Regions from separate parts of the Homo sapiens genome. Here region 2 is linked to region 1. A link means that fine-mapping ties the variant in region 1 to the expression of a gene that starts in the linked region. Tissue or cell type: whole blood. Region 1 holds a variant in brackets; the other region holds the start of a gene. All regions are shown on one strand. Distances are between the middles of the regions. Region 1 overlaps C1orf105 (chromosome 1 open reading frame 105). Region 2 holds the start of C1orf105 (chromosome 1 open reading frame 105).

The links. PIP is the estimated chance that this variant, and not a neighbour inherited with it, causes the effect.
Region 2: C1orf105 starts here. The variant in region 1 is fine-mapped to the expression of C1orf105 in whole blood (INTERVAL, PIP above 0.99).

The regions. Positions count from the first base shown.
Region 1 is chr1:172,446,434-172,461,959 of GRCh38, reverse strand. C1orf105 (chromosome 1 open reading frame 105) reads right to left here. Exons shown (of 7, transcript NM_139240.4): 3 at 13,429-13,519; 4 at 5,471-5,545. Among named protein-coding and RNA genes, the nearest start is that of PIGC, 10 kb to the right of the region's middle. The variant G/C (reference allele first, on the strand shown) is at 5,571.
Region 2 is chr1:172,414,470-172,429,995 of GRCh38, reverse strand. It overlaps C1orf105 (chromosome 1 open reading frame 105), which reads right to left and starts at 9,311. Exons shown (of 7, transcript NM_139240.4): 1 at 9,090-9,311. The coding sequence starts at 9,110. It overlaps LOC102724528 (a long non-coding RNA gene), which reads left to right and starts at 6,640. Exons shown (of 3, transcript XR_001738294.3): 1 at 6,640-7,499. It also overlaps a transcript of DNM3 not described here. RefSeq lists an enhancer at 646-1,168.

The DNA.
Region 1 (15,526 bases):
CTTTAAAATTGGTTGGTTTAGATGCCCCCACCCCCAATACACACATGTTCTTCAAGTCTCAGGTTAACTGTCATTTTATCACAGAGACTGCTGACTCCGGGACTACTGTTCGGTAGTCCTCCGCTCTATGTTCTTAGGGCCTCCTGGATCAAAATACTCATAACCTTTATATTGTATTTACTTGTGTAATGTCTGGGTTCCCTAATAGACTTTCAGCTTCATGAGGGCATAGACCTTGTCTCTATTTTTGTATTTCCAGCTGCTAACACGATGTCTGTTTAAGAAATATTTTTGATCAAATTAGTGAATGAATGAACCCACCTTGAAGCACACTGGAAATTTTAAAGGTGTCTTTCATATAGGCCTAAAATCAATGTACAGTTACAGTATTTTCGGTTAAGAAACATCACTTTCTTGAACTTTTCCAAATTTGTTCCTAGCACTAGATGTTGGTTTTCTTTTAAGAATGTTTTCACTAGGAAGCATTTTTCCGTTATTTCTCGAAAATTATTGTAGCTATAATAATAAAATGACAATTACAAAGATGTGGGTGCAGGTGTTCAACTACTCTACTCACTAAGTGACTTGTACCAAGTGACTCATGATTTAAGTTTATGACATAACAAAGTTACAAATTACAATGTATTAAGGACCTTTAGAGGTGCTTGAAAATAGCAAAAAAACTGAATGCAAAGGCTATACAAATGCCAAGAATGTACTATGTTTACTCAGCTTGTTCTCCTAACTCATTAGCTGAAGAAAGGATGGGAGAGGGAGAGGAAGGAGCTGATCTGGTAACAAAGAGCCTCTGGGCATAGTGGGGGCAGCCAAGGCTTTAGTAAGAACCTGAGGAGAGATTTCTAAACATAAAAGTGGCTGAGAATGTGCCAGAGACAGACTGCTTTATTCAAAAATTTATCTAAAGTTGACTCTGCTCCAAGGGAAGATGCAGGAAACTGTAACTCCTCCTGAATAGCATGATTGCTGTTCTAAATCCCCTAAATCCAGCTAGCGCTATTGTATGAATGAACTGTGCTACAGGGGCTGCATCAGAACAAAGCTGCCTGCCAAAGACAGGATTTTTGTTTTTGAGAAAAAGTGTACTGTGGGAGACTCCTATTCATTCTTGAAAACCCTGAATAGTCTTTTTCTTCAAGGAAGACTTCCTTGATATTTACTTTCACTGCCCCTTCACTCCCCATCAGATCTATTTCTGTTTATATTGATTACATTCTGTTGTCATTATTTATTTATTTGTTGACTCCTTAAAGACAGGTCTTATGTATTTCTTTTTTTTTCTTTGTAGTTTACCTAAGTACCTGGCCCATGGCAGACAATCAATCAATATTTGTTGAAATAAACTTAATTTATTTTGAAACTATTTTTTAATATATGTTAGAGAATATCTGTTTACAGTTGTCTAGCTTGATGGTCCTACTTTTAAGGGGCTTGAAGGTGTTAATTAGAGAGTAATGCAGATAACAGAAGGACTACAGAATAGGTGCATTAAGGGGAAGATGAGCTGTTTGGAGCAGAGACATGATGAAACACAGCCTAGATAAAACCAAGGCAAATATCACTGGTGATTCACAACCATAACTGTCAGCAGGTATTTCTTCTGCACTGAATGATTGAGCTTCTAGCCCAAGGTTACATAGGAATATGAGTAGTTACATAACCAGGTCCTATTTACATTTTTTTGAGATTCATCTATTTTGTGCTTTTATTTAGTGCTAATTTCTTTTTATCGGTGTTTATGATATCATGTATCATAAGTCACCATCTTAATGTGCAATTTAGTAGTTTTTAGTATATTCAGAAAGTTGTAAAACAACCACCATTGTTTATTCCTAGAACAGTTCATGACCCCAAAAAGAAACCACATACCTATTAGCAATTGCTTCTCACTCACTCCTCTCCCCAATCTTTGACAACCACTGTCTATTTTCTGTCTCTGAATTTTCCTATTTTGGACATTTCATATAAATGGAACCAGTATAATATGTGATCTTTTGCATCTGGTTTCTTTTACTTAGCAAAATGTTTTCAAGGTTCATCCATGTTATAGCATGTTTTAGTATTTCATTCTTTTTTATGATTAATATTCTATTATATAGATAGACAACGTTTTGTTTATCCATTAATCAAGCCCTAGGCATTTGGGTTATTTCCACTTTTCAGCTATTAAGATATGGCTGCTATGTGCATTCTTGTAGAATTTTGTGTGTGAATATGTTTTTAGTTCTCTTGGGTACATATCTAGGAATGGAATTGCTGGGTCATATGGTAACTCTGTGTCTAAGGTTTTGAGGAATTCCCAAACTGTTTTCCAAAGCAACTGTACTGTTTTACATTCCCATCAGCAATTTTTGAGGCTTCTAATTTCTCCACATCCTGGCCAACACTTGTTATTATCCACCGTTTTATTATTATTATTATTACAACCATCCTAGTGGATGGAAAGTGTGTCTCATTGTGGTTTTGATTTGCATTTGCTTTACAACAAATAATGTTGAGTATCTTTTCATGTGTTTATTGGTCATTTGTAGATCTTCTTTAGAGAATGTCTATTGAAACTTTTTGCTCACTTTTCAACTAGAGTGTTTGCCTTTTTATTGTTGAGTTTTAAGTGTTCCTTATATATTCCAGATACTAGTCCCTTATCTGACATAATCCTTCATCTGTTGATTTGCAAATATTTGGGTTGTCTTTTCGTGTTCTTGATGGTGTTCTTTGTGGAACAAAAGTTTAAAATTTTTATGAAGACTGATTTATCTATATCCTTTTGTTGTTTGTGCTTTGGGTGTCCTATCTTAGAAACCATTGCCTTATCCAAGGTCATGAAGCTTTATACCTATGTTTTCTTCTAAGAGTTTTATGGTTTTAGGTCTTACATTTAGCTCTTTGACCTATTTTGAGTTATTTTTGTACATGGTGTGAGGAAGAGGTACAAATTCATTCTTTTGCATGTATCTATGCAGCTGCCCCCGTACCACTTATTGAAAATACTATTCTTTCCTCATTGAACTGTCTTGGTGCCTTTGTCAAAAATCAATTGTTTATAAACATAAGAATTTACTTCTGAACTTTCAATTTTATTCCATTTATCTATTTGTCTATCTTTATGGCAGTACCACACAGTCCTGACCATAGCTTTGTAGTTAGTTTTAAAATCAAGAAGTATGAGACCTCCAACTTCGTTCTTCTTTTTAAAGATTGTTTGGCTATCCTGGATCTCTTGCATTTTAATATAAATTTTAAGATATGATTGCAAATTTCTATAAAAATGGCATCTGGGATTTTGAGGATTACATTAAATATGTAGATCAGTTTGGCGGAGTATATTCATCTTTACAATATTAAGTGTTCCAATCTATAAACATGGGGTTCTTTCCATTTATTTAGGCCTTTTAAATTTTCTTTCCACAATGTTTTATACTTTTCATTGTATAGCTCTTGTGCTTCTCGTGTTAAATTTATTCCTAAATAATTTTTGATGCTATTACAAATGGCATTGTTTTCTTCATTTTTGGGTTGTTCACTGCTATTAATAGAAATTAAGGTTTATATACTGATCTTGTATCCTCAACACTGCTGTACTCATTTATTAGCTCTAATAGTTTTCTGTGCATTCCTTAGGACTTTCGCTATATAAGAGCATATCATCTGCAAATAGACTAGTTGTACTTCTTTCTTTCTAATGTGGATGGATTTTATTTCTTTTTCTTATCTTTCTGGCTAGAATGTATAGTAAAATGTTGAGTAGAAGTGTCAGGAGCAGACATTGTTGCCCTGTTTCTAATCTTAGGGGAAAGTATCCAGTCTTTTACCATTAAGTAGGGTGTTAGCTGTTAGTTTTTCAAGCTGCTCTTTATTAGGTTGAGGAAGTTCCCTTCTATTCCTAGGAGTCTTTTTATATATTCCCCAGTATTTCTATTCAACTCACTGCTGAGAAAGAAGGGGTATCACAGTGACTACAGCAGACCTGCAGTCCCTCCCCTTGGGAGGACTTTGAGGTATTACTGCATAGAGTGAGGCAAGGATATTTCATGTTTATTTTCTAACTTTCTGTAGTTTATCACCAGGTTCTGACAGCAGTACAGAAGGGTCCCTGGGCACTTTTGTGTTTGAAGCCCTTCCTTTTAGAAGCTTCAATAAATGGTAAAATTGCAGCATGTGGCTCCACTTCTATCATTCCTGGACAAGGGCAAAGGTCAGAGAAGAGGTCTTGAGAAAGAGGATGGCTGCTGATGTCCCAAGTGTGCCAGCTGGCCAAGGCCAGCTTAGGCCTGGGGTTGGTGCATTCTAAATGTGGACACAAGGGATTCCAGGAATAAGACCAGGAGAAATCCCAATCCTAGTTTCCCAGACTCCAGCCAATGCTAATATTTAACACAGTGACCCTAATTATGTAGAAAATGAACATAGATGGCAACATCAAGGTGCAGCTTTGCCGGTAGCTTCAGTTAAATTTGTAAATCCCACATAAAAATTTCACAAAAGTGCCACTCTCTTTCACATCCGACTGGACCTAAGACTTGCCATGAACTCAGTGAAGGAGCTTTTCTTATATCTTCTATTTTTCTTCCATTCTTTTAAAGCACGTTTAGCCTACACATTTAGCCCCACCTTCCTCCCCAAGTCAAAGGAGAATTATAGGATATCAGAGTTGAAGAAACCCTTCTCCAGCTCGTACCTCAAACCTAACCATGTTGCTAAATTAACCCTTAACCAAAGCCTCTTCCTTACCCTGACGCTAACAACCATCCCAGCGCTAACTCTAATTCTTAAATTACCGAAGGCCTAACTCCAGCCTAGTCTAGCATCCTTCCTGAATCAGGCCTCTGATTCAGCAACTGTGATAGATGGCATGGCAGAAGTTTGTCTTTGTTCCCTCCACATCTCCCTTGCTTTCCTTCTTTCTTTTCCTAATATTCCTCCCCTACCACCATTCTCCACTATATGTTACAAATACCCAAAGCAGGTGACACCGCCCCTGACTACCTAGAAAGTACTGTAGACTCTCTCCCCAGTCTTTCTCTTGAGGTGCTACCTAAATTAACAGTAAACCCAAAGATGAAGCTGTTTGTCTCCTGATTGTAACGGTGGAGAAATGAGTGTGAGCCTATGTGTTGTGTGGGGGCTACATTAAGGAGGGAGAAGGAGCTCCATAATCCCCTAAGCCTCTGAGAGGCTGTAGTTACTTAGGAGCCCAAGGCGAAGTGTCTCATTGCATCTCTACTCTGGCCCATCTATCCTGGTTACCCTTTAGCTTGTTGAAACGGAGAAGGTTTATCATGTTCTGTCAGTCGATGCTGCTCCCAGGACCAACAGTTCCTCCTTGGCAGCCTTTATCTAGGCCCTCCTTGCAACGGGCCCCGTCACTATCTCTCCCCACAGGGCTTGGCTGGGAAGGGCAGTGCTGCACCCTGAGATGCCTGTGCCCATTTCTGTCTTCCCCCTTGCCTACCATTTTCATTTCTTGACATGTGGAGCACAGCTGTTGGTTTCTGAGCAGCATGGAGTCACACTGGTTCCTCCTGGCCTGAGGGGAAAGAGAGACAGAGAGA[G/C]GTGAGGAAATGGTGGGGCATGTAGGGCAGCAAAGATGTAGGAAAGCAGTGGAGGGGTGAGAGAGGTAACAGTTTTTCCTTCCGTAAAACAGAGATGGGCACTCTGGTCTCAGCCCCATCCAGGGTGGGTGTTGAATCTGGAGTGTGCTGCAGCTGGTAGGTACCGAGAGTTTAGGCAGGAGGGAGTGAGACATAGGCTAGGTGGTGGTCTTGAGGCTGCTGCATGCAGTGGTATACATGTAAAGACAGCTGGCAGAGATGGCTGGGGCCTGAAATTCAGTGGGGTCTCTACTTTCCAGCCTGAGCACCTGTGTCTGAGGGGTTGCATTCTCCTATAGGTGGGCCATTTTTTCCATTTCATAAAAAGGCTCCACCATATAGACTGAGGATCTCTGATGGCCTAAGAAAGAATGAAGAGAAGACTTCTCTTCTGCAAATCTTTTTTTCACGGGCCTTTCCTAAGCATCGCCTTCCTTTCTCATGCCTTAACTCTGGGCCAGAAACAGCTCTCATGCATCCATGGTCCAGCACCATTTGGCCCTTCTGTACCTCCTAAGCAGAATGATTGAAGCCACAAGCAGAACTCAAGCTTGTGTGTGAGTCCTGAGTCCCCTCAATCCTCTGGGAAAGAGAGGCTGTCTCAGTAGGTGAAGAAGCAATCAGTGGAGGAAGGGGAGGGGCACCGTGTCTGCTCACTGTAACCACTGGTTTTTATTCTGACTTCATTTCTGCAAAAGCATTAAAGAGAGGACTTTGGAGCATTTACACCTGGGTTCAGGAGGTTCTCATTTGCATCTCTGATAAAAGTTTGCTTAGGAAGCATATAGGAACTTGAGGCTAAACTTATGTTTGGGATTCTCTCTTAACCTTCCTCATTCACATTGACATCAGTCATGAGATATGGTCACAGAAAGTGCAGAATATGGGGAAGAGGAAAGCCACAGTGAGAAGACTATTGACTGAAGTCTTCTCTTTCCTTTGATCCGCTTGCTGGCCCATCACTACATGGTGTGCCTTGACCCATTCCTGTTGCCCTGGGAAGTGTGGGGAACAGAAAGAGGAGGAACAGAAAGTGAGGAGTTCCTGAGGTGTGCTCCTAGGATGACCTTTGCCAGATTGTTCTGCAAGTAGCTTCATCCTGTGAGAGACATATGGCACTTAGGTGATGCATCATGGGGGGTTTGAGGGCTAAAAACTGTTAACAAAGTTGGATTCTTTTGAGAAACATTTAAAATACACTTCATTTTTATAGGGCATTCTAAAAAGAATCAACTCAGTATTACAATGTTGTGGGTTGGTATGTCAAAGTATGTGTGTGAATAACTAGATTCATTCATTCAACAGTAAACATCTATTGTGAGGCTACCAAGTAAAGGGTGCTGTGACGGGGGTCATACCGACGAATAAAGCAAAGTTTCTGGAAGGAAGTTTCTAAGGAAGACAAAAGAAGAATACAAATTCATTCATTTACCCATTCATTAGGTACTGGAGACATTTAAATAAATAAGACATAGTTTGTGACCTCAAGCTGCTCACCATCCAGTAGCCTATACATCAAGAAGTATGATGGTGTTGAAGGTGCTACAACAGAAATATATCGAGGCTCCAGTGAAGCTGAAAGGGGTCATTGAGCTTAACTGGGGGTGGGGCAGAGAGGGAAGGGTCTGAGAAGGGTAAAAAAAAACAGGCAATGCTTGGGTAGGTGTTTGTGGAGTGAACAAGGATGGTGAGGGTGTTGCAAGCCCAGGAAACACTATACAACAACCTGGAAGAATAATCTAGCAAATCAGCTTCGGGTAAGTGAATGTAGGTTGGGATGGACAGGTTGTCTGGTGGGAGGTTGAATGGAGTGAGAAGAGAGACTAGAGAGGAAATGTCTGTGGATATTGACTCCTCTGCTTTGGGCTGATTCAACTTTCTACCATGTCTTCCTGATACCCCTGGGGGTGATATCCCCTGAAGCTCCAGCTCCTCCCTCCATCCCTCACATCTTTGAGGTATGAGAGTGAGGTACATTTCTGAAACTGCAATTAAGGTAGGACACACTAGATATCATACAAGAGGCACTAATACCTCTGTGCCTTCAGAAAACAGAGAGACCACTTCTGATTGGAGAAATCAGGAAAGGCTTCCTAGAAGTGGAATTTGTACTCAGTCTGAAGGGATGAGGAAGACCTGGACAAGGGGAGGCAGATATGGAAGAATTCTTGGGCAGGTTTGTTTTTAGTAGAGATATAAGTTCTTCACTGAAATTATTTCCTTCACCTTTTTCCAGACTTCTGGTTTCTGCTAAGACTACTATTAGACCCTATAGGAAGTGGAATCTCAGAGCTCATTGCAAATCAAGCAACAGATATTATTTGCAAGATCCCCAAAGTGCATTGCAAGATCTTGCTAGGTTAATGACAACTGTAAATGTGAGTACAGAGTCCCATAACATAATGACTGTCATCTCTTAGAATCTGAGGGATGAAATGCTTATATATTGTCCCACCTGGCCTTGATAGCTACTCATTTAAGACATAGTGTAGGTGTTACATCCTCAGAAAACCTTTCTCCTGGGCTGCTACCATTTCTCACCCTCCTAACCTCAGTTGGGTGCCTGCCTCTTTGATTGCATCATAAACTTGGTCTAGCTTTCTTTGTATTTGCACTATTCTTGATTTTAAATGTGTTTATTTCCTCCACCGGGCTGAGAGTTATTATATTTAAGAGCAAGAATCATGTTTTACACATCTTTGTATTCCTAGAACCTATGATAGAACCTGGCACACAGCAAGTATTCAACAAACATTGGGCAAATGAATGAGTCATTGTAAGCAATTTAAATTATGAGGTCTAAATATAGACACAATCAACCTAAATATATAAAACGAAAAATACATATATAAATGAAGATCACTATTGTAACACGGTCTTCAGGGAAACGTTACAGAACATTAGTGTTGTAGTACAACAAATTCATTCTATGTAATGCACTGGGGAAGAACACTGGCTAGACGCCCAAAAAGCTCTGTTCCAGTCCTGGCTCACAAACAACTTGGGTGACTTTTGTCAATCATATAAACTCTCCAAGTCTCCCTTCCCCTACCGATAATGGTCTTTGTGTTCAAAAAGACAGAGGCGGATGCTCTAATCCTGTCCCTTTACACTTTACATTTAAAGGTAAAAAGCAATCTTTGATCTGTGCTGTACTCTACCTCAGACTTGCTATCAGCTGAAGCCTGGCCTCCAAGAAGAGCTGCTCCATTTCTATCTGGAGAAGGGATGAGGGCATTGAAGAGTCGTGGAAGGCAGCTGTGACAGGCTACTTTAAAGGCGACGCAAACATTTGAGACGCCATGTCCTGCAGGCCTCATTTCCTCCATTCTGTCTTGCTTTCTTTCCCAGCCCTGAAACCCAGGTCTTTGGTCTTTTTCTTCTGTTGCATTCCCTTCTCACTCGGTTTCCTTACGACCAGCTCAGCAGCAATAACAGGAATGGAGAGGGAATTGTCCACATTCACAGTACAATGCTCTGGTTTTATCAGGTCTAGAGCCAGAGGCACTGGAATGTTAATGGGGCCCTCATTTCCCAAGCAGCTGTCCTCTGGATAGCAGATGGCAGTTGTGACAGGAGAGTGACAGCAACCTATGTGTAGCCTGGCCAAGGTATGATGCAGATTTCAGCCAGTCCCCAGAAGCCAAAAACACATTTGACAATTGGAAACATCCTCATACCCTAGGACAATATCTGCTGCGGTGTCTAAGGGCTGACTCATGGCCCAAGGCCATGGCCTTCTTGAACCCTTGGTAAAGAAACAGAGAAATATATTTCTCTCCATCTCCCTCTCCCTCTACTCTCCTTTCTTTCTCTCTTTCGCTCCCTTTCTTTCTCTCTCTTACACACCTGTTCACATAAAAAACAAAAATGTAAGCACCAGCTTGTGATTAAAACAGGCTTCACAAGCACCCTGTGAGGAGTACTGACACATTTGCCTCTGTCCTTTCCTTCAACACCTCTGTTTCTTTTCTCCTTCCCACTTGTAACTTAACTGAGAGAGACCTGATAGGACACTTGGTTCAAATCTTTCAATTTACCCAGGAGAAAGCTGTGACCCAGAAAGGTTAAGAGATTTGTCCAATACCACATCTATTGAACTTCAGTCGGCTAGAAAGTTTTTGGATAAAAAGGATTATGTTTCCTCAGGGGAAGAGTAAACTCTTAGAATCCATATAAAGGCCAGGCATGGTGGCTCATACTTGTAATCCCAGCACTTTAGGAGGCCAAGGCAGGCGGATCATGAGGTCAGGAGTTCGAGACCAGCCTGACCAACATGGTGAAACCCCCTCTCTACTAAAAATACAAAAATTAGCCAGGCGTGGTGGCATGCGCCTGTAATCCCAGCTACTCAGGAGGCTGAGGCAGGAGAATCACTTGAACCTGGGAGGCGGAGGTTGCAGTGAGCCAAGATCGTGCCATTGCACTCCAGCCTGGGGCAACAGAGTGAGATTCCGTCTCAAAAAAAAAAAAAAAAAAAAAAGAATCCATATAAAGGCAGAATTATTTCTACCACATAGAATCCCAAAAGTAGTGCTCAAAGAACAATTTCAATATTCAAAAAAAACCTTATGATATTACACATGTTCCTTCTATCTGAAAATATCAGCCATTTAAAAAAATAAAGCTGAATATACTTAAAAAAACCCAAAATGTATAAAAAATAATATCCATATCCCTACATTCAGACTTATTAAATTTGATTTTTATTACCATCACTATTTTAGGTCAATAGCATTTAATATTCTCTTTAAAAATTGTATTTGTAATTATATGCACTAGATCAACATAAGCAATATAAATATGAAAATGACTTAGGAGTATATGAGGTAGTTTCCTTGGTAGTTATGAGCTTTGAAAATTTAGTCAATGTGAGAGAAATAATAAAAAGAGAGTTCTTAGTGGTGAGAAAATAGAAAGTAAACATCCTATACATCTTCCCCAGCTATGCCTCTGCTACTGCACAGTCTTTTTAGCCAGGGCTTTTTGCCACAGGTCTGCTAAAAGCAAAATAAATAGTGTTCTTATCTTCACTCTGACTCATTAGACTGGAAGAACAAACCCAGATCAAAGTGAGTAGAGAGAGAGTGGGGGCAGGAATTGAGAGGGTGGAGTGGCATTTTATAATCTATTAGTAACTGAGGAGCTCTAGTTAATTTACACCCAGTACCAGCAAGTGGGCAAAGAGATTTCAGAGTCTCCAGCTGCAGTTTTCCGGGTCACCCCCACACACCTGCTGTTCCTTTGCCTTGGATCACTGAGTCAGTCACCTTTTGGCCCAGTTAGCCAACTATCATGATGCACCTTTCTGTTTCTCAGCATCTTGAGGAGTCGTGAGTGGATGCCTGCAAATGGCAGGAGAAAATGAAGAAGCTTCTCCACAGTAGATGTTTAAACGAGGAAATGTTTAGGCTTCATTTGTCTTCACTAAAAATCTTTCTTCTTTGACAGACCTGCCTCTCCTTTTGTCTTGTGTTTTTTGTCCCTCATCTCTGTGTGTGTGTTTCTATCTTGCTTTCTGTCTCCCTCTTCCTGTTATTGTGTCTCTGAGCCTGTCTCCCCTTTGTCTAGTCACTAGGAAATACTGCTCCAGGCACACGTGCACCTGCCTCAGGCACGGGGCTGCTCCGGGGCAGGGGAGGAGTAAGTGGGTGTTTAAAGTTCTGCCCTTTGACCTGTGACGGTGAAGAGGAACGCAGCCAGGTGGCAGGAGCTTTGCACCTCTGCACAGGGTCCGGGGTCTCCAGTTGGCCTCCGGATTGCCAGCAGCTTCTTGTCAGGTCCCTGATTTAGAGAATGAAGGAAGAGATCCTGTCCACAGTACATTCTACTCCCTTGAAACACAACAGTTTCTTTCCAGAAGGGAGCAGCTGCCAGCTGAATCCACGTTTACCTCATGGCACATACGTGCAGGCCTTCATACACGCAGTAGACTCTGGGAGCCAGATTCAAATTTGAGGACGTCTGTGTGACGGGAAAGAATATGACTGGAGGTACTGGCCTGGTGCCCCAACAGAGCAAGGATCCCGGGTTCCCTACTTGTGTTTCAATCTGCAGGGGTGACTCTTTCTCATGTGCAAATCAGTGGAGGGTCAGCCCCTAACAGGATGAGAGTGAGGGTGAGGCTGAGGGGCCTGTGTTCTCTCCCAATAAGAGCAACCTATTTGGGACTTCTCACGGGTCAGCCGGGAAACTGGCCTCCCAGGAGCCCTTTGGGCTGCGCAGCTGGAAGCTGTTGCTCTTAACTGTCATCTAGTGGCTAACTATGAATATTGCAGCCACAAAAACCGCTATACCCTGCTGGAGAATGGCCTCTCACTCCTACTGGTCGTTAGCATTGGCTTTCCTTCCCCATTCTCCACTCCAGCCAGGCTGGGGCCTGGTGTCCTAGTGCCCAGGTTGCCACAGTACAGAGACCCAGAACAAACCTGAGATGAGGAGGCATTCAGCGGCAGGTGAGACCTGTCTAAATAGGAAGTTCACAGCGACTTGATGACTGGAAGGCTTCTTGCTGGTTCTGCAGCAATTGCTAAGCCAGTCCTGCCTCCCCGCTCATCCCCCACCTCTACCCAGTGCACGTCATGGTGGCCATGTTACCTACTTGCCTGTCCAGGGTGTTAGGGGGACTAAGAGATGACTCTTAAGCAAAGCTTGGACCCTGAAACTCCGGTGTTGAAAACCTTCAATGTGTCCTCTCTGCTCTTGTCTGTTGGGCCCTGTGTGCATTAGCTGGGCCCAGCCGCGTCCTTGTTTCCCTTTCATGTATGCTCAGAATTCCTTGATATTCTTCAGGCATTTCCTCCTGCACACTCAGTCTCCACCTCTTTGCTGATAATCTTCTCTTCTCTTTCCAGTTCTTCCTCCACCCCTGGCTCTTCCCTCCACTTGAAAACAGTATCTTCTAGGTCCAGTGCAGATGCCACTTCCTCTTGAATCATTCCCTCACTTCCACTCTGCTTGCCCAACCTGGGGGTAACCTTTGCTCCCACCTTCTCTCACAAGTGCTGTGCCCTGTTTCTGAGACGCATTCTCAGTTGTGTCCCTGTCCTGTCTGCTCACTCATCTGTGTAGCTGCGGCTGACTCACTCATCTCTGATGTATTAAAGCAAATACAAAGGCCTCCGTAAACATATATTGACTGACACCAGGGCTCCTAATAATTGTGGCTCACATTCACTGAGCTCTTGCTCTGGGTGGGGCACCGTGTCGAGTGCCTTAGGACGCTGCTTCAGGCACTGCCTATGACAGCCCTGTGAGGAATGTGCAATTTTTCAGGTGAAAAAATTGCTTATCTCACCATATATTTTCTCTCTTTCTCCACCTCAGGGAGGTTCTGACTACCCAAGCACTGTAGCCTGTGTGCTTGCTCCACAGTGACACCGAGGGTCACCTGGCAGCCGGTCATGGTGGAGGGGAAATGAGGAGTTTTTAATGTAAAATTCCACAGGTGTAGGGAGTTGTAGGTGGGAGACATAAGCAATCCTTTGGGGGAGGCAGTAGAGACTCCAGATTGGTTCCAGTCACAGGCTGATAGGCATTCCCTGGAAGTCTTGGGGCAGATTCCTCCATACTAATTTTTAGTTTCCTGTTTTGTTGATTCTAACCTTATGCCTGTATTCTTAGTTCTAGTGGACTGGGACCCTAAGGCACTTGAGACATAGTGAGGGGGGTGGGGCCATTCATTTCATTTAACAAATATTTATTGAACATTGATGGTGTACCAAGCACAGGGCTGTGCTAAGGAGATGGGACATGTATTCATATTCTATGTCATTCTAGAACTGCTGTTGGTTTCATTTCAACAAAAATTTTTTAGTACCTTAGATAAAACATCTGGAACTTGAAACAAAATTGGCAAATTCATATTCTTCTTGGATGAAGTCAGAAAAGTCGCAGAGGTATGAGGATATCTAAGTAATTAAAACAAGAGAACGTTAGAACCGCAGTCCCATGTTTGAAGAGCCAGGCCCTTGGTTGTTTCTGAGAGAATACAAGGGACACCACAGGGAGCTATCTTCCACTCCAGTTCTGGAGCACTCAGGCCATTGGGGAGCTCCCAAAAGATGGATTTGCCCTCCTATGTCACTTTGGCTTTTCTGTCCCTTTTGTTTTGCACTAACCAATTTTGGATTGTCAGACACTGTACAAACAAGGCAGGATAAAGATTGTTCACAACAGTAGATGTGTAATGAGCGAAATGAATCCCAGGTTTCCTCTTTGAAAGGGTCTGCACTCAAGTTTTTGATGTTTAACCTGCACCTGTCCCCTTTCGTACCTGGGCTGACTTCTTGGAGTTTGTGTCCTTGCACCCTGAAACAATCCACCTGTTTCCTCCCACAGAATGTCTTCTCCCTTCACCCATTCTTTTCCTTTGGAACATTTTTTCTTTCTAGTTAGCAGTTGAAGCAGTGATGTTGCAAGAACACCAGTTCCTTTTACAGGGTGACCTGCCTGCGCTCTGTCTCACTTGGCACTGTGGTTCATTTCATTACAGTGTAAGGGGCCAAGGCCTGCAGGGGCCTGATAATCATAAACTGTGTGTGTTGCACCATTCATGCCCCTGGCATCCAAGAAATAGAAACTCAGAATGCTGGCAGTTTTGCCGGGAACACACCTCCTCTCTAATGAGGGAAGATTTCATTGTCCATTGTTTATTTAAAACAAAGGCATGTGAAAGGAGTTTGATGCTCATGAGACATTTCTTGCTTCATTTCTCCTCACACTTCCCTGGGCCCTGTAAGACCAGAGATGGTGGGTCTGACATGAGTGCCCTCGGGGTCTTTGTCTTTGATATGGGAATAGGCTCTCTTGGACTTGTCACCCAAATGCTGACCAGCAGAGACCAGGAGGCCAGTTTAGAACTCCTTCAGCATACAATAATCTTATATAAACATGACCTTAGTGTGACTTGAAGGGCTTTGGAGACTGACGATGAGTGTGGCTTTGAAATTGTCAGGCCTACCTGAGAGAGTCCTTGAAGGAAGTGGGTCAGTACAGGCACTTCTTATTACAGCCCAGCCTCACCTCCTCCAACCCTGTAGGTGTGTTTCCATTGCGCACACTTGGAATTACTCTGAGCATATTTGGCTAAATGTTCCTTTATCTTTTTTCAGACTGTTCTGCATTAGAACTCTTTGCTCAAGGGTATGTAATGCTTAAGGCACATTGAGAACTTTCTCCCAAAGTCTCAGTAAGGGGCTTTGCCAAAAATAAACAGCTTGGAACCCGGAGCTTTGGCCCACATGAGGAGCTTTTAATCCTTAAGATCTTTTGATACTTAAACCATCCTTTCAAAAGACTTTTCATTCCCGTCTTGTCCTCCTGAGAGCTCAGGGCACCTCAAAGGTGCTGTTCGGTCACCTTTGTTGTGAGGTAGGTATATTACATTTTTCTAAACAAGAATTAAGATTGCTACCCCAATCCTCCCAGAATAGCGATGAGTAGAGCTTCACTGCCTGCCTAAGGTAATTTCTCCTTGTGCCTAGCTTAGGTTTGGCTGGCTGGAGGAAAAACTGCCCACTCCCTTTCCAGTTGGCTGTCAACAGACTGTCTGCTCTGACCCTCCAGGACCTGGCTATGAAAGTGAACAGGTGCTGCCGATGCCCAGTTGTATTCTAGGCCTACCCTTCTCCCTGATCTCCACCCTCTGCCAAAGGCTTGTGTAATTAGAGACCAAGGGAGCTGGGGGCAAGAGAGCCATGCACAAGGATACTTTGCTCTTCGCTGCTGGGGCAGGTCTAATGGGCATGGGGGTAGTATGGGATGGTGGGATATTACCCTATTAGATCAAACACTAGCAATTTCACATAAAACATCCAGATTTCTAGTACTGTTAGAAGACCCAGTGGATCTGGCCTCTGGACTCACATGCCTGCAGGTAACACTGCTGGCGTGGGGGTGGGCTGAAGCGGGGAGGT
Region 2 (15,526 bases), 32 kb after region 1:
CACTCTAAGTTACAGGTAAGGCTGGAGGGTGGTGTGGCAAGTGAGATCAAGGACAGAGGAATGGGGAGGCAGCTTTGCTCACACTTCCAAAATGGTGCCAAGGATTAAGGATTAAAGTTGGTATGGGAGGGATTAAGAAGAAGTAGAGCAATAGGATGACAGGTGCACTTTATTTTGTGGCGTGATGCAGCTGATTTATGATTGGCATGTAACTAGAAGGCTTGTGCATCTGGCTGTAGCAACATGCCTGGTGTTCTGTGTGGAGATTGTATTGGTGTCAGTAAACTTTTGAGAAATACTTTGGGCAGCTGGGTTACATTGTGGATTTAATAATTCATACCAAGCATATAGAGGATGCATATTGAGCCATCATTTACATCCTCCAAGCCAAAGGCTCAAGGACAAGAAAAAGAAAACAAGTCAGCAGAGGGCATCAGTTACATAGTTATACAAAATTTCAAACCTGTTGTATTTAGGGAAACAGGGCTGGGACACAGTGCCATCTTGTGGAAGTGATTGATTTCCCTTTTTATAAGAGATGCAATTAGAGTCTTGAAATTCTTGCTGAATTGTGGTTTGGGAAATAACTACACCTGAATTAATGAGTCTGAGGTCTCCATAAATTCAGGAGGTAAATAGCATACTGGGGTTTGATAAATAATAGCACCTGTATTTTAGAGCACCCAATGCGTGCTAGGTAACGTGCTATGCACGTTGTGTGTGTATGTGTGTGTGTGTCTGTGTGTGTGTGTGTGTGTGTGTGTGTGTGTGTATATTTGTATTTACTTCTCACAGCAATCCTGTAAGAGGTTTTATTTCCATTTCACAGTTGAGACTGAGACTCAGAGTGGGTTAAGTATTGCCTAAGGCTATGTTACCAACTTGGGCTAATACTTTGCTTTTCTTACACAAAGCCTGTGCTTGTGCCTGAATGGAGCCCAGGACTGAAGGATAATGGTAGGCAGTTGCTTTTAATGCTTTGTCAAATTCCTCATCGTTCCCTTATCCCTTATTCTCTTCCCCCAGTATCCAACAGTATCCCCCAAAATCCAACAAAATATTTAGTATCTACATAAGCTTCCCTCTACTCACCTTCTACCATTCAGATTTTTATAGTGTGTGGCTTCAGGAATTTATTGTCAATAAATATTTTTTGAGTACTTACTGTATGACAAATACTGTTCTGTGTGCTTGGAATATATCTGTAAATAAAAAGGACAAAGGTTCTTGACCTAGTAGAGCTGACATTATAGCAGGAGGAGATAGATAATAAACATAAATGGAAGGTAGTAAGTGCTATGGAAAAAAGAAAAAAGTGGCATAGCATTAAATAAAGAGGTCAGAGTAGGTCTCATGGGAAAGGTAACATTTTACCAAAGACTTGAAGGAAGTGAGGGAGTAATTCAGATTCCCTGGGGAAGAGCATCCCAGTCAGAGGGAAGAGCTGCAGAGGAAAGAGCTGCTACAAAACCTTTGGGCAGAAGAATACCTGGCATGTGTGGGGAATAGCAAGGAGTGGCTGAAGTGGAGTGAGCAACAGAAGACGAAGTCGTAGAGGTAACGTGGGAAGCTAGATTATGTATGACATTGTAAGCTACTAGCTTAGGCTTTTACTCTGAGATAGGAGCCATTGGAGGGTCATGGAGAAAAAGAAGATACATATTTTGAAAGGCTCATTCTGGTTGCTGTAGGGCAAGAGTAGACACAGGAAGAAGCATTTGGAGGCTTTTGCAGTAATACAAGCAAGGGATAATGGTGGCTCAAAACAGAGGATGGCAGAGGAAGTGGCGGAAAATAGTCACGTTCTATATGTAATTTGAAAGTAAAGACAGTGGGGCTACCTGATGTATTAGATGTAGAGTGTGAAAGAAAGAGAAGAGTTATAAATTAAGGTTTTTCCCCTGAACAAACTGAAATATGGATATGTTGTTAACTGAGGTGGGGGCAGAGGGATGGTAACTGGAGATTTTGGGGAGGAAGATTAGGAGTTTAGTTTGGTGCACGTGGGATAGGAAATGTCTTGAAGACATTCAGCCTGAAATGTTGAAGGGAATATAGGAAATATGACCTTGGAGTTTGAGAGAGATGAAATTCAGATATAAATTCGGGATTTGTTGGCAATATAAATGATATTTAATGCTGTGAGACTGAATGAGATCACCAAGGAAATGGTTATAGACAGAAAAGGACCAAGAACTCCAAAGTAAAATGTTGAGGCGAAGAAGAAGCAAAAAGATTTGGACAGCAAAACCACTGAGGCAAGGGAAAAGCAAGAGAATTCTGTGTCCTGCAAACCAAGTGCTGAATGTGTCTCCAGAGAGAGTGGGTGATCAAATGTGATCAGATAAAAACATGATAAAGCAAGTAAGACAGCTGAAAATTGACCTTTACATTTAAAAGAGCAGGTTTTTGTTGGAGTGCTGGAATAAAAACCTGTTTGGTGTGGGTTTAAGAGAAAATAGAAGAGAAATTTAGCAGCAAGTATAGACAGCTTTATAGTTTTGCTTCAAAGGGGAGCCAGGAAATAGGACAGAAACTGAAAGGGAAAGTGAAGACCAAAAAAATGATAGCATGTTTGCACCCTGATTGAAATGAAATGGTAGAGAGTTGTTAGTTGATGGTGTGAGAGAGGGAAGAATTGCTGGGGAAATATTCTGGAGTACATAAGTGCACAAGTGCAAAGCCTGGCTTTCGACAAGGGCAGGGATGGTTGATCTATGGGAACAAGTGAGAAGACAGAGTAGATGAATACCGATATTAGTAAATGGGTAGATGAGGTGATGAGAGTCTTTGGGAGTTCTTTTCTGATTGCTTCAATTTTCTCAGGGAAGTTGGAGGCAAGGAATCAGCTGAGATTGAGGATAGGGGAGTGAGAGAAAAGGTGTGAAACAACTTAGGACATTGGGAGAGTGAATGAACAAGGGATGCTTAGTGTAACTGCTTGGCAGTATTAAGGGCTCACTTGAATATGGTGGTGATTAATTTAAAGTGAAACCAGTTATCCTGGCTTTGTTCTTTGCTTGTGTGTGTGCTTTCCAGACCATGTACAGTTACATGGGTGCAAACCAGAGTAGGTAGAGAGTTAGATTTACCCAGAATGGTGGTTTTAACAAATTGAGAGAAGGGCAAGGGAGACAGGTATATATGCATGGGCATGATGACAATGATTGACCATTCAATTTAAGTTGGGTAAGGAGAGTGAACCTCAAGAAGGGTGAAGGACAGAGGGCTGAGGGACAGCATAAAGGTGAATAGATTGGAGATCCAAGAGATTAAAACAATAGAAGTAGGCTAGAAAGATAGGATATAGAGATGAGAGAGTGGGGAAAGACAAGGTTTTAATTTTGGAAATGAGTAGCTGAGATAGAGTGGAGAGCAAGATCATTGCAAGATCTCACTACTTAGCACTCAAGTAGAAGAAAAAAAAAAAGACCATTGAAAGAGTGAAGTCAAGAAAATGAGAGGCAGGGTGAGGGTGGATTACCAAGAAGCGTATGAAAATCCCCAAGAATTAAAACAGGAGTATCACTGGAGGGAGTGACATTGAAACAGGAGCTAAAATCATCAAGAAATAAGGGAGAATGAATTGGGCATTGGTAGTTAAAAGCAACACATAGGGTCATGTAGATAGTGCTGTAATCTGATGCCATGAGGTTCAAAGCTGGGGGTTTTAGCGAGGAGGAAAGAAGAATGGTCTGAAAACAAAACAAAAAATGAGGATAACTACCCCACTTCAGGCTCAGCAGTGTGAGGGCTGTGGGAGACAAGCTGCCACCTTTGGAAAAGGATGCAGGGGAGGCAGTCCTTTCAGAGAAACTCTGGTTTGTTAGAGTAAGATTGTGAAGTGCATATCCAGAGAATAGGTTGAAGATACAGGGAATTTTGTTGATCATGGGCAGTGAATTATAGAGGAGACAGTGGAAGGGTTACAGAAATTTGGGAGAGATGGGAAGACAGAATAGGAACATACAGAACTGCATGGAAATTAGCGTGGAGAGTGGCCTAGAATCCAGGGGTTCTTGGATGATTGACACAGGCTGGGATAAAAGGTTAATGACATAAGTTCCAGTAAGTGTAAGGCAGATAGTAGTAGTGAGCGTGTGAGTGGGTGGGTAGGGAGGGGTGAATTTTGGGGGCTTCCTCTTCACCTTGAAGGAGATGTGTTCTCAGAATGTAGGCCTTTTCACATCCTCATGAGCATATTATTGCTCACTAATGGGATTAATGTGCTAGTTCTCTGGGTTATGTGCATTTTGACAAGGACCTTTTGGGGATAATATCACAAACCTCCTCAGAACAGTGCAAACTTCTAATAGCAAGCAGTGTCATTGTAGTGCTCTAAAAATTTTGATTTTGGGCAAAGTGATCAGAGCTTAGGTGAGAGCCAGGGTTTGACCAACATTCTGTGGAAGGTTGGGCCTGATAAGGCATACTCCTTTGGCCACCAAGAGGGCTCAGCTGCAGGGGAGAGGCAGATTAGAAACAGCTGAAGGCTTGTTGGGCCTGCTAGCTTAGACCACGCCTATACTTTTTGCTTTTTTTTCCTTTCGTAACTCACAGATGCCATCAATGTTGGTGTAACTTGACGAACAATAACCATCATCAAAAAATTAAAACATCATTTTCCTCCAGGTATATTACTGTGATTAATGAGATAATTCCCCAGAGGTGGGGTAGTCAGGAAGCAGCCATTTCCCAATTGGCTGGCATGTGCTCAGCACCACAAGTCTGGCAACACTATTTGGTGCTGCCTCCTTATGCCCATCAGGTAATGCTGGGGTAAAAGTACCCAAGGAAAGGGCTTAGAAAGACAAATGGCCTTTTCTGCCACCAAATGGAACCAACTGGCATTGAGAATCAAGTAACATCCAGTATGATCCTAAGGTCTTCTGTCCTAAACAGACTAGCTCTGTAATTCTTTGACCATAATACTACTAGGATGATGGAACAAATTGATTTTACCAATGCTGAGGTCCCTCAGGCTCCCACGAAACCTGGCTCAAGAGGAGCTGCTTCTACTTTACAAGCTCTGTTGGCTCACTGCTTGCCACTCCAGGCTGGCCCTGTGGCCTTGTGCTGGGCCCGAGTGACATTTGAACTCTGGTCAGTGAGAACACTGTGGGCCTCACACTCTTTTTAAGTTGCAAAATAAATAGATCTTTAAGACATTGAGCAGATTTTGTGGATGTAGCTGAGAATATTTTTGTCATTAAAAGAAAAAAAAAGAGGCAGAAGGAATCATCTCTTTGACTCTAACTTGCTCTCCATTGCCTTCTGAATGTACCCTCAGAGATAAGAACAAGGAGGCCGGGCACGGTGGCTCACACCTGTAAACCCAACACTTTGGGAGACTGAGGTGGGCAGATCACTTGAGGTCAGGAGTTTAAGACCAGCCTGGCCAACATTGTGAAACCCCATCTCTACTAAAAATACAAAAATTAGCCGGGTGTGGTGGCAGGCACCTGTAGTCCCAGCTACTCTGGAGGCTGAGGCATGAGAATCTCTCGAACCCGGGAGGCAGAGGTGGCAGTGAGCCGGGATCGTGCCACTGCACTCCAGCCTGGGTGACAGAGCAAGACTCCATCTCAAAAAACAAAATAAAAAAGAGAAGGGAATATAACCCCTAAAAGCCTGAGAGGCTAATTTTTTGATAATGTTATGTGGAACATCAAAATACTTTGTTAGTAGCTGTTTTGAGAGGCAGAACCCACATTAGTGACTTCTTGGTTACTGCCTTGCAGATCCTTAAGTCTCTTTGGTCTTCTGCGGCTTGCTTAGGCTTTCTTTATTATCTACCCATGGCTCATGTTCATGAGGTTCATTGAAGATGTGAACTGGGGCTGAAAATTGGGATGTGACATAATGTATGATAAAACTTGATTTGATTAAAAACCGAGGATGGGAGTAGGAGTTTATAGTGTTGACTCATCCAATAGCCTGCCACCTAGTCTGATCTTAATATGTTGACAGTATTTAGATTCAATAGTAACTTGTAGCATCAAAAACAATAACAAAAATATATAAAGATGGTCCCTGACATACAATGGTTCAACTTGGAATTATTCTTTTGTCCCCTCTATATATTTTCAAACAGCCTGGCTTCAAGCTCACTAATTCTTTCTTCTGCTTGATCAATTCTGCTAACAGCCTCTGATGGATGCATCCTTCAGTATGTCAATGGCATTTTTCAACTCCAGAATTTCTGCTTGATTCTTTTTAATTATTTCAATTTCTTTGTTAAATTTATTTGATAGAATTCTGAATTCTCCCTCTCTGTGTTATCTTGAATTTTTTTGAATTTCCTCAAAACAGCTATTTTGAATTCCTTGTCTGAAAGGTCACTATCTCTGTCTCTTCAGTATTGGTCACTGATGTCTTATTTAGTTTGTTTGGTAAGGGCATGTTTTCCTGGATGGTCCTGTGCTTGTGGATGCTTGTTAGTGTCTGGTCTGGGCTTGTTTGTACCTGTCCTTCTTCGGAATGTTTTCCAGGTATTTGAAGGGACTTGGGTGTTATGATCTAAGTTTTTGGCCACTGCAGCCATATCAGCATTAAGGGGTACCCCAAGCCCAGTAACGCTGTGGCTCTTGCAGACTCATAGAGGTACCACCTTGGTGGTCCTAGATAATATCCAGAATAATTCTCTGGATTACCAGGCAGAGACTCTTGTTCTCTTCCTTTACTTTTTCCCAAAGAAACAGAGTCTCTCTTCCTGTGCTGAGTTGACTGGAGCTAAGGGAGGGGTGATATAAGCACTCCTGTGGCCACCACTACTGGGACTGCCCTGGGTCAGACCTGAAGCCAGCATAGCACTGGGTCTTGCCCAAGGCCCACTGTAACTATTACGTGGCTACCATCTATGTTCGCTCAAGGCTCTAGGGCGCTACAATCAGCAGGTGGTAAAACCAGCAAGGCTGTGTCCTTTCCTTCAGGGAATCAAGTTCCCCTGGGCCCTGGGTGAGTCCAGAGACGCTGTCTGGGAGTCAGGGCCTGGAGTTGGAAACTTTAGAAATCTACCTGGTTTTGTATTCTACTGTGGCTGACCTGGCACCCGAACCACTGAAGTCCTTCCCACCCTTTCCTGCTCTTCCCCAGGCAAAGGAGTTTCTTCTCATGTCCAACACCACCACAGGCCCATGAGGAGTACTGCTGGGATACTGCCAATGTTCACTTAAGGCCCAAGGGCTCTTCTGCCAGCATGTGTTGGATGCTGCCAGGAAAGTGACTTACCCTTCAGGGCAGTGGGCTCCTCTCTGGCCTAGAATAGGTCCAGAGATGCCATCCAAGAGCCAAGGACTGGAATCAGGGACCCAAAGAGCTGGCTTGGTGCTCTTTCCCACTGTGGCTAAGCTGGTACCTAAGCTCAAGACGGAGTCCCCTTTATTCTTCCCTCTGTTCTTCTCAAGCAGAAGTGGTCTCTCCTCGTAGCCACCAGACCTGTGAATGTGCTGGGTCACATCTGAAGCCAGTGCATTTCGGAGTTTCAGCTGAGGCCCACGGTATGTAGTACTTGGCTACTGCTACTGATTTTTCAGGGTCCAAAGGCTCTTTATTCAGCATGTGATGAAATCTGCCAAGACTGGGTCCTTCCCTTCAAGGCAGTTCCCTTTTGGCCCAGGGTATATCTAGAAATGTCATCCAAGAGCTAGGGCCTGCAATGAGTGCCTCAGGATTTTGCCCAGTACCCTATCCTACTCTGGCTGAACTGGTATCCAAGTTGCAAGACAAAGTCCTTTTCACTCTTCCCTCTTCTCTCCTCAAGCAAAGGAAGGAGTCCCTTTTGGAGCCATAAGCTGTGTTGCCTGGGGTTGGGGGAGGGGTGCTGTAAGCACTTACTTAGCCATCCTGGCTGGTGTCTTACTAGATCGTGCGCTCCCCAGTCCACTGGCTCAGAGCCCAGCACAGCACTAGGACTTGCCTGGGTATTGCAGTTGTTGTGGCCCAGACAGGCTTTCAAGTTTATTTAGGACCTCAGAGCACTTTAGCCCATGGTGGTGGAGGTAGTCAAAACTCAGTTTCTGAAACCTGGGATGGGCAATTCTCCTCTGGCTAAGGGTGGTCTAAATGGTCCCTCCATTGGCAACAGCTAAGTTCTGCCCCGTATTGGCAGCACTGAATTCTAGAGTCCCACAATCGCTGTGCCCTCCCTCCAAGTGCACAGATTCTCTCTCCACACTATGTGGCTGCTGCCAGGGGATGGGGGAGGGGTGGTGTCAGCAATTCAAGATTGTCTTTCTTATCTTCCTCAGTGCTTCTTTCAACAATACGAAGTTAAAACCAGGTACTGTGATCACTTTGTGATCACTGATTTTTGGTTCTTATGAAGGTGCTTTTTTGTGTAGATAGTTGTTAAATTTGATGTTCGTGCATGGAGAACAATCAGTGAAGGCTTCTGTTTGGCCATCTTGCTCTGCGTCCTCCCCAACTTAGGATTTTTTTACTTTATCATGGGTTCATCAGGGTATTGCATGCATTTTTGACTTACAATATTTTCAACTTGTGGTGGTTTATTGAGATGTAACCCTATCATAAGTCAAGGAGCACCTGTACTATGGTAATAGAGACAGCTAGTATATCCCTTTAAATAGGAAACATACAGTGTCATAAGCTCAATGTGATTTATTCAGATTTAGACCCTAGTAATTATAAAAGTCTATACAAGTTTTTTTTTCTTTCTCAGCAATCTTAACTTCCTGTGACTGAGATTCATTGTTTTAAAGTGCATTCACAGTTGAGAAGGTTTACTTCAGAATCTCAGGGAACTGCACTAAAGAATCTGGTATCAATTTTCTGAGGATTTAAAAAAATCATACTTAAATGCTGAGTTATAAAAGATGTTGGCAAGTACAACATTTTTTCCAAACTATACGATAAAGAGCATTGAAATTTATCATGCCCCAAACCCATTAAAATTATCTTCACCTGTAACTGAACATCAGCTGTTATTTCCTTACCTTCTTTTGGCTTTCAACTTCTAGGATGTCTGTTGAAACACCCCTCAATGTTTATGTGGCCTCCAAGGCATACAAACATTTACCAGGGTAACCCCATAAGGAAAGAATTGGAAGTTTCATTTATTTTTTTCCTACCTTTAGTTCTCTTTTTTCCATCTTTCAGATCTTTAGATGTTCTGAGTTTTTCTAGCTGGAGACTGGGGAAACCTAGCTCCCCTCACTGTGGCCAGTGGAAGACTGCTGTGGAGAACCTGAATCCAAAGTGTTTTTTGTTAGGAGACGAAGTAAACAGGCCAGTTTACAGTTTCAATACCAGTATGCCTTTTTCTCTACCAACATCTGTGTGATTTACATCTTGAATCATATAATTCCATTCAGAATGAAAAGCTCAGTTTCTGATTGGCTGAAATGAGTTCTAGTATTCCTTTCTTTGTTAGAAGTCAAAATCACAATGTTCTGGAACATTAGCATGTGTTGGGTAAAGTTGATAACAGTATACTAAAACTCAGATAGCTGCTTCAGTACTGAAGTCAGAACAGTTCTCCCTGGAAAGACAACCAAACTTTTCTCTTATTGTAGCACTACATTGTAATTGCTTATTTAGCTATTTTGTAAGCTACTTTTATTCTGTTACTTCTCTGGTATTCCCAGGGTCCAGGACATTATCATGAATTCAAGAAATGTTTGATGCATAAATAAAGGAATGAAAATATATAAGGAATATTATGTTTACTAAAGGCATAATAGTTTGGCTCTTCCTGACTATCCTGAGTTATGATCAACTCTGAAAAAGGGAGTAATTTTTCAAGTCTATTAAACATAGCAGGGTGGAGGTGGAGGTAAGAAGAGTTGGGGAAAGGTATATTATGAAACATAGAAATACTATTTACTAAATACATATTAACAAATCTTAGCATAATTTAATTTTACTCCAGGCTGCCCCCCATCCCTTTCCCCTGCCCTCTTTTTTCTTGCCTATAGAATGTAAGGAAGGGAACACACTTCTTTGTTAAGGAAAACTGAGTAAGGTTGTCATTTCATTCTGTTATGACTGGAGTTTTTCCTTCTCATCATTCATCAGGTCAATTTAAGTTTTATACATCTAAACTGTGTAACACTGCATATAAAAATAAGTCCATGTTTAAGACAAAGTGGAAAAGTACCAAACACTTTTAAAAAATGAATTGAAGAAAACCTTCTCTTTGACAACTTCGGTTTTCATTTGGGGAGGTGGTATGAAATCATCTAGGTACATTTTTGTCTATTGGGATGAAGAATGCTATCCACTAAGAATATTGATTTAAAAATCAAATGCCTGGACTGGAGGGGAAGGAAAGGACAAAAGACTGCATGCTATGTGCTATTTTACATCAAGTCACCTCCTTCCTGCTATACATGAGCTTCAGTTGATGCCTTGGTTTGGAGCCTTTGAACTTTCTTAGTTATCACTGATTTTAAATGGTAGTCACTGGACCGGGGATACAATTAAAATAATGTAACATGCCATATGAACATTTTAAACCAAGAAACTGATTTTTCATTTTTGAGTGGAGAACTCAGTCCTTAAAAAAATTTGTGGTCCGAAGAAACAGCATTACTAATGAGGACTCTCCCTTTTACAACTGGGGGTTCCTGCCCACATCTTCCAAATACCTCCTTTGCCAGGGCTTGCCTAGGTCAGATGTGAAGTAAATAGAACTGATGAATGATTTTTTTGACTCTCTTGTCATGTAGTTTTCTGTCATCTTAATATGCTGAAGGGGAGCACATTCAGAAGTGATCTCATTTGAGAAGGACTACTTTCAAGTTCTATTTTAGGCCACATAAATTTTCAAAAAATAAAATTCTGAATTAAATCTTAAACCTTTGGGAAGGCTTCAGATCACATATTTGGTGGAATGTACTATATTACCTAAATAATAAACATTTTATTTGGATACATCTTTGGGATGCTTGTTAAAAAATTATAGATTAAAATTTTAGTGTTAGAATTACCATTTGAGGATAGAGGAATAAAAAGTTCTCTATTCCTTCAAACTTATATGGACTCCATTTTTCTAGTGCTTTACTGACATCATGAAGAGTCTTTCTTCTCAAGGTGGCAACATTTCCTTGCCTTGTACTTTTATTCTGAATGATGTGGTTTTTCGCCCTTACATTTGCCATATAGAATTTATGAGGTTTATGTGTTTTTGCTCTACAGTTTCTTCTATGATCTTACATTTTATCTCCCTTAAGAGTGTTTAGAAAAACAATAATAGGAAAAAATATTTTGGTGCAATAATAAGTAAAAATGGGATTCCTGGAGGTGGATTGGAATTATTTAGTCTTCTGTGTTTTTTCTAGACATCCATAAATTTTCTTTTTCTTTTTATTCTTCTATTGGACAGAAATTTCACTTGAAGGTAGATTATTAGTCTCTACCAAAGACCGTCTTAAATCACAATGCTTTAAGAACTTTTGAATTAAGCTTCTTAGAGGAACACATAATATATTCACCTTACCTTGTTTTAGTTGAAACAAATTCTTTTTTAAATTTAGGTCTTCTTTAAAAAAAGAAACAGAACACACTTCATTTTTATATAGAATAAACTTTGTTTTTATTATACACATGGATGAAAAATAAAAGTTTTTATGTACATACGACATATAGTGCAAATGAAAAGCTTTTAAATACCATGGATAGACATGTTGTTGGAAACAAAAGGAGATGAATGATGGGGGTTAGGATGGTCGTCCTGGAACTGCAGGAGGGGGTCGCCTAGTAAAAACAAAACAAAACAAAACAAAATAACAAAAAGAAAGACACAGATGCAGAGGAAGAAAACAATGTTTAAATTATAAAATAAACCCAAATAATAGCATGCAAAAATAGCTCACAAAAGTCAAATTCAAATCACACACAAAAACATGCAGACATGCAAAGGAAATGAAGGGACATCACATAGCTAAGTTAGCAGTTCCCAGGACTTTTCCTGGCTACTAGCAATGTTCTAGGTATGAGCCATTTGAGCTCACTCAAAAAGCTTCTTATTTTGCACCATGGAATGATAAATCCATGCACTCTTATTCAGGAGAACTGGGACTAGTCCCCGAGCCAAATACCTTTATAACTTGTATATTTGATTTTCAACCCTGATTTTGTGAAACTCAGTTATTTCCAAAGATTTCAATGAATGTTGTGAAATCTCCATAGGGGGAGAGGGAGTTGATGTAGCCAATGGCAGGTTAAATTTTTTTTAAGTGAGGTAAATTAGAAGGTGTCAAGAGATCAAATGAGCAATGTAATCACAATGCAGAGAATGCCAGAGGTTGATCTCAGAAAAAAAGGATTTGTAAATAAGAATTTGCTCCAGGTGAGTAGTCCTGGTGTGTAATAGCCTGGATTCAGGCCTAGGGAAACTAGGAGGCAAGGTCTGGTCCATGGCAACCCCAGGATTTTCTAGGATTTCCCTCTGTCTAAGAGCTAGGTATAACTGTATTTCTGATTTGTTCTGAAGTGGGCCCAAGGTAAATGAAATCTGGTCTGCTGGATCTTTCTCCATTTCCCTAGGCTGGCTTGCATTTCATCAGACCTATGGATAATGAAATGAGGGTCCAAGTTGTGCTTCATTTGACATCAGCCTTTCTTGTGTTCAGCAGGGAGATGATTTGCAGCTAGAGAAAATACAGTAAACCCTACATTGCAATGAACAGCTTTGTAAGTAGGAAAACAGCAGGCCAAATAAAGCTTTCCCTCTGGTTTTTGGCAGAAGTCTACACTTTAATTTCCCCTTTCTAACCAAACCATTAATGAACTCAACATTATAGGAAGCTGTAGAATGGTGAGATTATCTCAAGACCCTACTCTCTTTGACTTCTTATCCAGGTGTTCAACAACGCTCACTTCCATCTTATTCTTGTTACACATCTTATTCTTGCTTGTGAGTGGAGCAATGAAGTCTATAAAAAAAAAACAAAAACAAAAACAGAAAAACTTCTTTTTCATTTTCTATGAGATGTTAGTGGAGCCAAACTGACTGGTGTATTTCTGGGCAGTGGTAAAAAATGATCTTAGCTTCCCCAAAGTCCAAAATCAATTTTCCTTCAGTCCAGTTTAAGCTGACTACACTAAAGAGGCCTCCCATCCATTTAAATGATGGAGAACTTGTTATTGGTACCTAACCTTTCAACTTCAGGGCCGGGGCAGGGGCTAGGGGGTCTGCAAGGCTTTAGCTTTAGAGATCCAGGTAATGGGTATCCCTGGTGTTTTCATGAAGAAAGTGTAATTAAATTTCTGTCGAGCTCAATGAGATTTATCACCTGCCCAGAAAACAGAAACTATTTTCGAGTTCTGAAGGGGCTTTAGAACACTTTAATGACCTCAGCAGGGTGGGGAGGTGGGCCATTAAACTGAACAGCAAGTCCACAGTGCTGAAGCGACATTCTGTTAGCATATGCCAAAACACTTTCCTGTTTGAGCTAGTTTGGTGTTCTGATCCAGAAACAGGATCAGAAACTTTATGTCTTGGAATATATTCCACTGACAGCTAGAATGTTTGCTTGAAACATCAGGGTGACATTTATATCCTCAGACAGCTTTTTCTTTTCATCTTCACTTTACTGTATCTACCCTTCCTGTCATTGCTGAAAAAGCATTGTTGTTGATGATACCATTTACTGGGTCAAAATTAGTTCTTTTAAGGATATGGGCAGTTGGGGTTTTTGCTCTTTCTTTTGCATAATTTTTATATGACTTACACAGTGCCGAAATGCTTAAAGGCAAGTGCTGCAAATATTTGGGCTTTTTACATGTAGAGCTACAAAGGTACCTCATACAATTGCCACTCCCATATGAAAGTTGCAGTACTAAATTGGAATACTGAGTTGCTAACAAATTCTTAAGCTCACCATCCTAGTATTCAACATATAAGCAAATTTACCTAATCAAGACTATAATTTCAGGTTATATTTTCTTAAGCATTCTGAAAAATAACTTCAAAGCAGCATGTTTTGGCCAAATCAGGTAAAGGAGATTGGAAAGCTGTATCTGGAACATGGGTGTAATTTATATATAAAAGACTCAATTATTAACAAGAATGATGAATTACCCTCATTCTTTTGGCTCTATGTCAACGCTGAAATTTGGTCTTATGGTGACATTCCTCTGGCCAGATCTCTGAGGAGGTCTTCCTTATAGCTTTTTTCTTTTCTGTTAAAATCTCACAAAAAAGGCCAGGTGCAGTGGCTCATGCCTGTAATCCCAGCACTTTGGGAAGCTGAGGTGGGCGGATCACTTGAGGTCAGGAGTTCGAGACCAGCCTGGCCAATGTGGTGAAATGCCGTCTCTACTAAAAATGCAAAAATTAGCCAGGCATGGTGGCACACGCCTGTAATCCTAGCTACTGGGGAGGCTGAGGCATAAGAATCACTTGAACTTGGGAGGTGGAAGTTGCAGTGAGCCAAGATCACACCACTGCATTGCAGCCTGGGCAACAGAGTGAGACTCTGTCTCAAAAAAAAAAAAAAAAAAAAAAACTCACAAAAAATGCTCTGTTTGCTTTCTTTGCCCATCCTTTAGGTAAGTTAATAACCCAGAGCAGTGAGTGAGCCTGAAGGCTTGGGAAAGGGAGGAAAGAAAGGCAATAGGAATAGTCTTCAACATTCTTCTCTGATGATTAATCTTAGATCAACCTGGATGCCTTCCTTCACAATAATCTCATGGAGGTAATTTAAAGAATCCCTTTTTTGGAGAGTCAGAGAGAAAAGGTAAGGTATAAAATTATCTGAATCCTTCATAAGTCTCATTAAGACTCAATGCATGTATGTCTCTAAACTGCTTTTGTGCTACCTGTTCCAATGTGACTTTCCTCCTTAAGAGTCAGATACTCCTTTGACAAAGTACCAGAGCTCCAGATGAATTGCCCTTAGTTGAGAGCTCTTGTTGCTCTTACATTTGGTCTTTTTCTTTTTTAAGAGATGGTGGGGTCCCATTCCACTCCTCAGGCTGGAATGCAGTGGCACGATCACAGTTCACTGCAGTCTCAAACTCCTGGGCTCAAGTGATCCTCCTGCCTCAGCCTCTCCGGTAGCTGGAACTACAGGCATGAGCCACCATGTCCAGCTAATTAAAACAAACAACTTTTTTTTTTTTTTTTTTAGAGATGAGGTCTTGCTGTGTTGCCAATCCGGTCTCAAACTCTTGGGCTGAACTGATCCTCCTGCCTCAGCCTCTCCGGTAGCTGGAACTACAGGCATGAGCCACCATGCCCAGCTAATTAAAACAAACAACTTTTTTTTTTTTTTTTTTTAGAGATGAGGTCTTGCTGTGTTGCCAATCTGGTCTCAAACTCTTGGGCTGAACTGATCCTCCTGCCTCAGCCTCCTGAGTAGTACATTTGATTTTATCATCCAACTTTTTGTTAGTGAGAGTCTGTACTGAGGAAATCACACTCAATGTCTTTTCCTTTGGCTTAAAGCCACTGAAGCAGTTTCCTAAGGCATGTGCCTCAGGACACTAGATCTGTGAGATGTTCTATGGTCAAATAAGTCTGAGAAATATGTAGACATTACTCATCTCTTGGAGATTCACA